Homo sapiens: one gene and its partners. The protein of the gene in region 2 purifies or fractionates together with the protein of the main gene of each other region. This does not show direct contact. Each region holds a gene or a part of one and is shown on either strand. Other genes may lie near its edges. The genes, in order: MCTS1, PCDHGA9 and GNPDA1.

Evidence for each region.
Region 1: the proteins of PCDHGA9 (region 2) and MCTS1 purify together in Homo sapiens (co-immunoprecipitation; one large-scale study listed by IntAct). This does not show direct contact.
Region 3: the proteins of PCDHGA9 (region 2) and GNPDA1 purify together in Homo sapiens (co-immunoprecipitation; one large-scale study listed by IntAct). This does not show direct contact.

The regions. Positions count from the first base shown.
Region 1 is NC_000023.11:120,617,479-120,621,131, forward strand, and holds part of MCTS1 (malignant T-cell-amplified sequence 1), read left to right. Parts: 3' UTR 1-3,653. UniProt on the Homo sapiens protein: Translation regulator forming a complex with DENR to promote translation reinitiation.
Region 2 is NC_000005.10:141,490,075-141,493,402, forward strand, and holds part of PCDHGA9 (protocadherin gamma-A9 isoform 1 precursor), read left to right. Parts: coding exon of another isoform or gene 1-1,803; intron 1,804-3,328. Other genes in the region: PCDHGC5 (protocadherin gamma-C5 isoform 1 precursor), read left to right, coding at 1-1,626. UniProt on the Homo sapiens protein: Potential calcium-dependent cell-adhesion protein. May be involved in the establishment and maintenance of specific neuronal connections in the brain.
Region 3 is NC_000005.10:142,006,414-142,010,066, reverse strand, and holds part of GNPDA1 (glucosamine-6-phosphate deaminase 1), read left to right. Parts: intron 1-2,166; coding exon 2,167-2,268; intron 2,269-3,653. UniProt on the Homo sapiens protein: Catalyzes the reversible conversion of alpha-D-glucosamine 6-phosphate (GlcN-6P) into beta-D-fructose 6-phosphate (Fru-6P) and ammonium ion, a regulatory reaction step in de novo uridine diphosphate-N-acetyl-alpha-D-glucosamine (UDP-GlcNAc) biosynthesis via hexosamine pathway.

The DNA of each region.
Region 1 (3,653 bases), on a different chromosome or scaffold from region 2:
ACCACACCCGACCCAACTAATACATTTTTAAAATCCCATTTTAAAAGTAAAACCACAGTTTTCATATAACAAATGTTATTGCTCTTCATTTCATTCTCCAATTTTAAAATGCTTTACTTTCAGCCAATATGTGAATATAGGAGACTTCAAAAGCATAATCAATTACTCCCTTAAAGTTCATTGTAAGTGTTCTCAGAACTCTACCACCTAGAATTTAAAGACGGGAAGATTTACTTTATAATTTTAATTTCTTATCACAAGACTCGATTGTCAATAACTGTTAACGTCCATTTAATAATCTATGGTGAAATAGGTAATTTCTTCTTATTTTCACAAGCGTGTGAGTAAAAGACTGGGTTTTAAGCAATAAATCATTTGTTCTAACTAAGCACATGCTTGGAAAAAGTGCTATTTTTCCAAACGTATGCCTTGAAAACAAATACAATTCAATTGCCTTTTTGGTTCATGGGAAGCCATACTGCGGTGGCTTCCAAGGTTGGCCAACCTGTTTTTATTCTTACCACCTCTTTCAAAAAGGGATGTTGTCTTTGTCCCCAAATTCTGGTGTTGTCCTATGCTGATGCATAATGAAGCCCTGAGGCTTGGAAACTTGCAAACCAATAAGATGATTTAATGATGAAACGGCATGTCAGTTTGACACTGTCTATTAATAGTCCTTGAGTGAGCTTAAATTTGAGACACTTTTAAAAGCGGCATGTAGTTCCAGTTTTGCTTCCCTTATCAGTGGAGCTTGAGATGTCTGTTCCTGCCGACTGATGTTTTAACAAATTTTTAGTTTCTCATGATGTGAAAGATTTTGTATGCACGTCTTAGTCTGGATACTGTTTTCATTAGTTCTAATGCTGCTGCATGCAAATTTTGTTTAAAACCAAAATTGACTCTTCACATCTGGACTAGATTGGACATGGTGAGGAGGCTGGAAGGAAAGTCCTTTTTGCTCTGTAGGCTCTGGACAGCTTTCTTAGAGTTGACTTATCCAGGATTAAGAAAAAGTTTTCTTTTGCGTGACTAAATTCTTTCCACAGTTTGCTTGTGTAAGCATTTTAGATTTAAGCAAGTTCAACTTGAAATATATTTGAATATGAAGTAGAAACAGCTTCATTTAATGGGATAATAGCAATCTCTAACCCATCAAATTAATATCTACTAAATAGCTTCCAAAAAGCACTGACTGGAAAATATTTTTCACTATCATGGCTTTATTCAGTTTCAAAAACAGTAGGGGCTAAAATGTTTGGACATTTATCCTGCATTTATTTTGTGTTTCACAAGGTTAAAATTTTGTATTTTGTAAAGTGTCTGAAAAGGAGTCCACAAAGTATTTCTGCTTTCTTGCTCCTGAATGCAAAGGTCTGAGAGAAGGCACATCCTCATTAGCTTCTGGGTGTTGTCAAACCCAATCCTCTCTCAAGTACCAAATGCCCAGATACATTTATTGGGATGCAGGAATCTCACTTAAGTAGCGGTTTTTGCTGATATAAAGACAAACATCTTGATTAAAGTGTAGGGAGATAGAAACTATACCAATTTGGGCAATTTTGGCTCTAATGTCTAATTTGTTGTGAAAGGGGAAGATGTTCTAAGCTAATGTTCTTAAAAGTAACTTATGAATTTCTTAAAAATAGTTTTTAAAAAGCTGTTTCAGGAAAAGCTGTTTTATTGCATGGCACAGATTAAATGTACAGATGTTATCTTAAAACAATGAAAGAGTTCCCCTAATTTGAATATTCAATACCAGCTGTTATTCACATCAATATTTTAACATTTTACCATCAAGATATTTAATACAAAGGATTGATACATATTTAACTGTTTAGAATTCTAGTTAAACTTGTCCAGATGAGTAAGAGGGAAGGAGAAATAACATTCTCCAAGTACCTACCATGTGCACAAGCTCTACTTATATATCTTGCTTAATCTTAGCAATGATTCCATGAGGTAGATTTTAACTCTCATTTTACAAACGAGGAGACTAAGGCTCAGAGAGGTCATACAACTTCAGGAAAGTTGTATGACCTCTCTGAGGTAATAAATGGCAGAACTGGAATTTGAACCTAAGTCTCCTTGTCTGCAAATCCTGTGTTTTGCAGAAAACTCTCCTCTTGTATTTCATAAAATGTTAAATCTTGGCCCAAATTCAAATCACCATCTTTATGGGTTATTGGAGAGAGGTATAAGTTGGCAAGACTCTGTTCCACGATGGGAAAAAATGGGTAGGATTTGAATGAGTAAGAGTGGGATACTTGCACAGTATCATATTTGTGTGGCTGGAGTAATGTTTTTCTGTTTCCCTCTTAGCAAAGTGGAGTGGGAGAATCTTGAAATTGAACTCAGTCCTGAGGTCTGATTTTCCTATTATTAGTCACTTTCAAGCCAGGTGATTTGTGACCATTTAAATGTTATGCTATTTCAAAGTCTTCTACATCTTTAGAAAAGGACATGAGGGAGGGTTAGTTAAGTGGGGCAATGAGAATGTAGAGTGTAATGTGCAAAAGCAGGACTAGCAGTTGCTTTGAAGATATCTGGGGAAGGCCGGGCACGGTGGTTCACGCCTGTAATCCCAGTACTTTGGGAGGCCAAGGTGGGCGGATCACGAGGTCAGGAGATCGAGACCATCCTGGCTAACGTGAAACCCCGTCTATACTAAAAATACAAAAAATTAACCGGACGCAGTGGTGGGCGCCTGTAGTCCCAGCTACTCGGGAGGCTGAGGCAGGAGAGTGGCATGAACCCGGGAGGCGGAGCTTGCAGTGAGCTGAGATCGCACCACTGCATTCCAGCCTGGACAACAGAGCGAAACTCCGTCTCAAAAACCAACCAAACAAAAAACAAAAATTAGCTGGGCATGGTGGCGCGTGCCTGTAATCCCAGCACTTTGGGAGCCAAGGTGGGTGGATCATGAGGTCAGAAGATTGAGACCACCCTGGCCAACATGGTGAAATCCTGTCTCTACTAAAAATACAAAAAAAAAAAAAAAAAAAAAAATTAGCCGGGCGTGGTGGCGCGTGCCTGTAATCCCAGCTACACAGGAGGCTGAGGCAGGAGATTTGCTTGAACCTGGGAGGCGGAGGTTGCAGTGAGCCGAGATTGTGCCACTGCACTCCAGCCTGGGCGACAGAGCAAGACTCCGTCTAAAAAAAAAAAAAAGATATTAAAATTAATGACAGGAAGAGTTTGGGTTCAGTTATAATTTAAGGGAAAAAACATTGAGGGGCCTAATCTACATTTTGCTCCGGATCCAATGATTTAATTTTTGGGAAGAAAAATCCAGTGATTAAAGTCATGCAAGGAGATGGCCTGGGGCTTGCTAAAAGTCAGGTTGCAGTTTCCATTGCATTCAAGAAAATCAGAAAAATAAATACAACTTTTAGAAGAAACTAAGTTTTCTCCCATTCATGTTTAGCTATTGGGGGGTCTCATACTTCTGGACTTGCTTAGACCTATGCTATCTAATATGGTAGCCTCTGCCCATCCATATGTGGCCACTGAGAACTTGAAATGTGACTAGTTTGAATTAAGATGTGCTGTAACTAAAATACACCCTGGATTTCAAAGACTTAATAAATAATGTAAATTATCTATTCTTTCCTGTTGATTATATATTGAAATGATAATATTTTGGATATGTTTGG
Region 2 (3,328 bases):
TATTCTTTTGGAGACCACACATCTGAGGCAGTGCGGAACCTCTTTGGCCTAGACCCTAGCAGTGGGGCAATCCATGTGTTGGGTCCCATAGACTTTGAGGAGTCACGTTTCTATGAAATTCATGCAAGAGCCCGTGACCAGGGACAGCCTGCCATGGAGGGCCACTGTGTGATTCAAGTGGATGTGGGGGATGTCAATGACAATGCCCCAGAGGTGCTATTGGCCTCTTTGGCCAACCCTGTCCTAGAGAGCACACCAGTGGGCACAGTAGTGGGGTTGTTTAATGTGCGAGACCGGGACTCAGGTAGAAATGGTGAAGTGAGCCTTGATATCTCTCCGGACCTGCCATTTCAGATTAAGCCTTCTGAGAACCACTACTCGCTGCTAACCAGCCAGCCTTTGGACCGGGAGGCCACATCCCACTATATCATCGAGCTGCTGGCCAGCGATGCTGGTTCACCTTCCCTACACAAACATCTCACCATCAGGCTCAACATTTCAGATGTCAATGACAATGCACCCCGCTTCAACCAGCAGCTTTACACTGCTTACATCCTAGAAAACCGGCCTCCGGGCTCCCTTCTTTGCACTGTGGCTGCCTCAGATCCAGACACTGGGGATAATGCCCGCCTCACCTACTCCATTGTAGGAAATCAGGTTCAGGGAGCCCCAGCCTCCTCCTTTGTGTATGTCAACCCAGAGGATGGACGGATCTTTGCCCAGCGTACCTTTGACTATGAATTGCTGCAGATGCTGCAGATTGTGGTGGGGGTTCGAGACTCCGGCTCTCCCCCATTGCATGCCAACACATCTCTGCATGTGTTTGTCCTAGACGAGAATGATAATGCCCCAGCTGTGCTGCACCCACGGCCAGACTGGGAACACTCAGCCCCCCAGCGTCTCCCTCGCTCTGCTCCTCCTGGCTCCTTGGTCACCAAGGTGACAGCCGTGGATGCTGATGCAGGCCACAATGCGTGGCTCTCCTACTCACTGTTGCCACAGTCCACAGCCCCAGGACTGTTCCTCGTGTCTACACACACTGGTGAGGTGCGCACAGCCCGGGCCTTACTGGAGGATGACTCTGACACCCAGCAGGTGGTGGTCCTGGTGAGGGACAATGGTGACCCTTCACTCTCCTCCACAGCCACAGTGCTGCTGGTTCTGGAGGATGAGGACCCTGAGGAAATGCCCAAATCCAGTGACTTCCTCATACACCCTCCTGAGCGTTCAGACCTTACCCTTTACCTCATTGTGGCTCTAGCGACCGTCAGTCTCTTATCCCTAGTCACCTTCACCTTTCTGTCAGCGAAGTGCCTTCAGGGAAACGCAGACGGGGACGGGGGTGGAGGGCAGTGCTGCAGGCGCCAGGACTCACCCTCCCCGGACTTCTATAAGCAGTCCAGCCCCAACCTGCAGGTGAGCTCGGACGGCACGCTCAAGTACATGGAGGTGACGCTGCGGCCCACAGACTCGCAGAGCCACTGCTACAGGACGTGCTTTTCACCGGCCTCGGACGGCAGTGACTTCACTTTTCTAAGACCCCTCAGCGTTCAGCAGCCCACAGCTCTGGCGCTGGAGCCTGACGCCATCCGGTCCCGCTCTAATACGCTGCGGGAGCGGAGCCAGGTGAGGGGCTCGGCGCCGCCCCGGGCGACCCCTGGGGGCGGCACTGGAGAAGCCGCCCGTCCTCATAAGGGATTGAACTTGCATCCACTCCTCTCCGGCCGGCTTGGTCGCTGGCTGCGCTCCACCCGATTCTCGGGATCATTGGACCGTTTGCGCGAAACCAGAGTGGCCGATTAAGGGATGGGGCTCCGAGCACCGGGGGTGGTGGCGACTGTGGGCGAGGGGAGGTGGGACCGACCCCCACCCCTACACTCAAAAAAGGCCGGGGCCTCCTTCGAGCTTCCGGTGAATTTCGGGCGATTTCCGCGGGTGTCGGGGGTCCCGGGAGGAGGCAGTCACAGATCCACCCCTGCAGCCAGCCTCCTAGGCGCCGGCTCCGGCACGCTTCGCCGGTCTGTAGATTTCCTCTTCGATTTCTCCCCAGCTCCCAGCATCTGTGACTTCACTGTTACCCTCCCTATCCCCGCATCACCCAACCGCACCTGTCTGCGGGACTTAGGTGTGCGCGCGGGGCTCATGCGTGTCCTCCCTGCTGGCCACCCCCACGGCCCACACAAGTTGCACGGGCTCGCCACGCCCCGCCAACACGTGCGCGGACGCACGCACGCACTCCTCGCACGTGGGCTTACGCGAATACCAGCTTTCACTGCCACTCGCTCGCGGCCAGATTCACAGGCCTGTTCCGGTCCACTCGCAGCTCCCCTCTGCCGCTCCCTCCGCCGGGCTCAGGAGTACTCGTAGCTGATTGTGCGCGCCTGAGGGTCCCAGATCGCGGCCGCCCAGGACCAGGCGAGGACTCCGGAGCCTCCTCTCACCTCTCCCACCTGCGCCCCGGGCTGGGCCGGGTCGCCTGGGGGGCGGCCTGAGCGAGGCGCGGGGCCAGGAGCGCTGGAGCGACTGCCGCTCTAAGTGCCGGGCGGGCAGGACTCTACGATCCTTGGGCCAGAGGTCCGGATGGTCCCGGGACTCCGTCTCAAGGGTCGGCGACCCCTCAACCCAGAAGCCTCGAGCAGGCGGACAGGCAGAGCTGCCCAGTGGCCGAGGCGCGGCAGGGCTCCGCGTTGGGCGAGTGAGTGAGCCTCTATAGGACAGCAGGACTGGGACTCCAGTGGCACCAGCGGCCCCTTCCTCCCGCAGGAAGTGAAAGCCTCGAGCGCCCTGGCTCTCAACCCCCAGAGATACAGGCTTTTGGCGCCGTCGTGATCACAATGTGCCCAGCGATCTAGGGTCAGAGATTTGGAGGTGACCAAACTATCTGACACTCTAACAAGTCCTGTCTCCTCTGGCAGATGGAAAGCTATAGGCTCTGCCAGATGCCAGGGTGCCCTTATGTGTGAGGAAACTACAATAGTAAAAAACACAAGTTTCTCCAACTCCAGGAGCTTTTATTCAAAATATATCAATGCCTAACTCTGCTCCTAGGACTGTATTTTGAAACACCCCCAGGTGATTTTGATAGCTGATTGAGAGAAACTTACTATATAACTCCTTTGAGAACCTCATCTCATTTGCTCTTCCCACCATTGCTGTTGGCTAGGTACTAACATGCCTCTCTTATAACAGCTTCACAGAGGTCAAGTGACTTGCTCAAGTTCACAGAGCAAGTAAGAGAGATTCTAACCCCTGTCTAACTCCAGAATGTGTGCTTTTAATTTCTTGGCACTTGGAACTTTAAAAGCTTGAGGACAGGAGAGGGGAGTTG
Region 3 (3,653 bases), 520 kb from region 2:
AATGTCTCAGGCCCTCGGAGGCTGTGCTAACATCCTGTCTCCTAACTGTGGAGAGACCCAACCTCTGTATGGGTCAGAGTCTGGCCTTCTGAAACCATTCCCTCGTTCCCATCATTGCAGAGTCAGATCCAAGCTCTTCAGAGTGGCATTCAAGGCCCTCCAAAACCTGGCCTCTCCCTGCCTGTCCTGCTTGAACCAACAGGACAGCGTTTCCACACGGGTTCCTTGGAACATTGCTTCTGTTAGATGTAGCACCTGTCAGGGTTCTGAGTGGAAACCACAGAAACCAACTCCAGCTAAATTAAGCAGAAAAGGAGTTTATTGGCTAGATACTGGGAAGTTCAGAGAATTCATGGGAAGGCTAGAAGTTTGGAAAATGGCAGGAGAGAGGAAGCTATGTGGCTCAGGCATAGCTAAGGCCTTGTCACACGGACCAACTAATTATTTTGGGTGGGCTGCGGGGAGCTGCCATTCACTCAGCAGGTATTTATTGAGTACCCTCTGTATGCAAAGCTGTTCTAGCCTCTAAGGATACAGCAATGAACAAAAAGGATATGAACTTCTGCCTTCTGAGGCTTAAATTATAATGGGAGAGACATAATAATTAGCAAAATATAGAGTATGTTAGATGGTGATAAGAGGAAAGGAGAAACATGAAGCAGGAAAGGATAGGGAGTGTGTCGGCAGGGGTGGGGCTGTGCAGTGTTGGATATGGTGGCAGGGAGGGTCTCATAGCCAGGGGCCAGGTTCTGTGGAGCCTTAGAATAACTGGTGTTGCTGAGGGTGAAATGAGAAGCTATTGGTGGGTTTTGAAAAGAGGGGTGACATGACGTAATCTCGATGGGTTTTTTTTCTTTCATTTTTTTAGTTTGCAAAATTTCAAATATTCAAAAAAGAGGAAAAAAACAGGTCAATACCATTCACCTAAATTCACCAATTGTTACCATTTTGCCACATTTGCTTTTACCTTTCTCTGGCTCTTGTTCTTTATCTACACACACACACACTTTTTTTTTCTGAACCACATGAAAATAAGTTCCAGACATCCTGACACTTATCTCTAAATCCTTCAGCACATATCTCCTGAGAATAAGGACATTCTCCTACACAACCATGATACCATCATACCTAAGAAAATGAAAAATCATGCCATCATCTAATATGCAAACTGTGTTCACAATTTTTTCTCAATTGTCCACATTTATCTTTTATAGGTTGGTTTTTAAAAAATTAATTCAGTGTCCAGTCAGGGTTCATGCATCTTTAGTCTTTTAATATACAGTGTCCTCCTACCTTTTATTGTGTGTGTGTTTTTATGACATTGACTTTTTTTTTTTTTCAAGATAGAGTCTGGCTCTATTGGCCAGGCTGGAGTGCAGTGGTGCAATCTCGGCCCACTGCAACCTCTGCCTCCCAGGTTCAAGTGATTCTTGTGCCTCAGCCTCCCGAGTAGCTGGGATTACAGGCACATGCCACCATGCCCAGCTACTTTGTGTATTTTTAGTAGAGACAGGGTTTCACCATGTTTTCCAGGCTGGTCTTGAACTCCTGACCTCAAGTGATCTGCCCGCCTTGGCCTCCCAAAGTGTTGGGGTTACAGGCGTGAGCCACCATGCCTAGCCATGACATTGACTTTTTAATGAGACTCAACTAGGGCTTCGCTGCTCCTCAGGGAAGTCTTCCTTGAACCCTGAAGCACTGGGTGAGCCTGTGCTTTACCCTATCACAACTGACGTTCCTGCTTTGTGTTCTACTCCTAGTGAGTTATCTTAGAGTAGCTACTGTCCCTTGCTCCCCTGTGTCCTTATCACATGGCCCTGTGCCTTGCACATATTACTTGTTCAGGGAGTATCATGTCAATAATGAAGTCTGATGTTCACTCAGGTACTAATCAGAGTGATTTCAGTCATCAGTGTGCTGGATACTGGGAGATTCAGCAGTGATCAAGGCAGACACAGTCCTGCCCTCCTGGAGCTTACAGTCTAGTGGCAAAATAGGCATTAAACAAGCAATTAATGGATGGATGGCAGTTAGGATTGGAGTACTGGGTAGGACTTCAGATCTGACAGGTTCTCCCTGTGAGCAGCCCTGACTTATTCCTGTGAACCCTCTGGGCTTCCAGACTTGGGGTGCAAGGGGTGTTCATGGGTGTGGCCACTCTTGCAGGGAGTACCCCACTTGGCTGCTACAAGAAGCTGATTGAATACTATAAGAATGGGGACCTGTCCTTTAAATATGTGAAGACCTTCAACATGGATGAGTACGTGGGTGAGTCTTTCTCTTTCAAGGTTCTTTCCTGATTCTAGGAGAGTGATGCTCCTCCTCTCATTGGCCCAGTCCTGGAGAGGAATCGGGGAGCCAGTGACATTTGATGATAGGCTCAATTATCAATACTTACCTCTTGGTTTACTCAGCTATAAAATGGGGCTAATAAAGCTGACCTCACAGGTTGTAAGCATTAAATTCATTTAATCCTTTTATGATAAAAGATGTGGAAGTTTCTTATACATAACAAATACTTAATAAATATTAGAGTATCTCCTTCTCCTCTGCCTGCTCCTCAACTCCATTCCATTTCTTTCTGGAACAAATGATTGCAAGTGGGATCCTGGCTCGGGTGTTTCCCCTAGGATCTGTGTCTGTGCTTTCTCTTCTGTGTGTGGCCTCCAGCTCCCCTTTCTGCCAGGTACACTTGAAGGGGACCTGAGATTGGTATCCTTCCTGCTGCTGAAAGACTATACCTTGGTCTTCTATCACCTCTCCCTCACCCAGTCCTTTTGTAATAGCTTCATTTTAAACATCCTTTTTTTAAAAAAAAAATTGTGGTAAAATACATGTAACATGACATTTACCATCTTAACCACCTTTCTGTGTATAGTTCAGTAGTGTTAAGTGCATTCACATTGTTGTGCAACCAATTTCCAGAACTCTTTTCATCTTGTAAGACTCAGGCTCTATACCCGTGAAACAACAACTTCTCATTTCCCACTTCACCAGCCACGGAAACCACCATTTTACTGTCTGTTTCTATGAATTTGACTACTCTAGAATCAAACTAGAGTATATAACTGGAATCATAAAGTATTTGTCTTTTTGACTGGCTTCTTACACCTAGCATAAAGTCCACAAGGTTCATCCATTGTTGTAGTGTGTGTCAAAATTTCCTTCCTTTTTAAGGCTGATTTTACATATTCTTAATGCTTAACATTAAACATTATTTTTTTTTCCTGGCCAAAAAAAAAAAAGTTGATCTGGGGAAGCCCTAAGATAGTTCTCTCTAACCACCTGGTGTTCAAGCTGGGATTTATTCAGGCTGAGTGGGGTAGAACTGGGAGTGGATGGTGGGTTGAGAGGCACAGGGTGAGGGGTGTGCTTGCTTGCTTTCTAAGATGAGTTCAGCCCTACCCCAGGTGGCCAGAGTGTCCCCAGCCTCTAACCTATGGTCATTGCCTTATGAAAAGCAGATCAGATCAGAATGTGGGGATTTCCCAGGCCCTTGGTGTGCAGTTACTCTGGCCAAGCCCTGTGGCCACAGATGGTGGTACTGGGTGGGTGGACACTTATGGATACTGGCTCAGCCTGTGCCGAGTGGCTAGGGGTCAGAGGGCTGGTGCCTAAGGCTCCCAGATGGGCAGACCCCTGGGAGTGTCTCT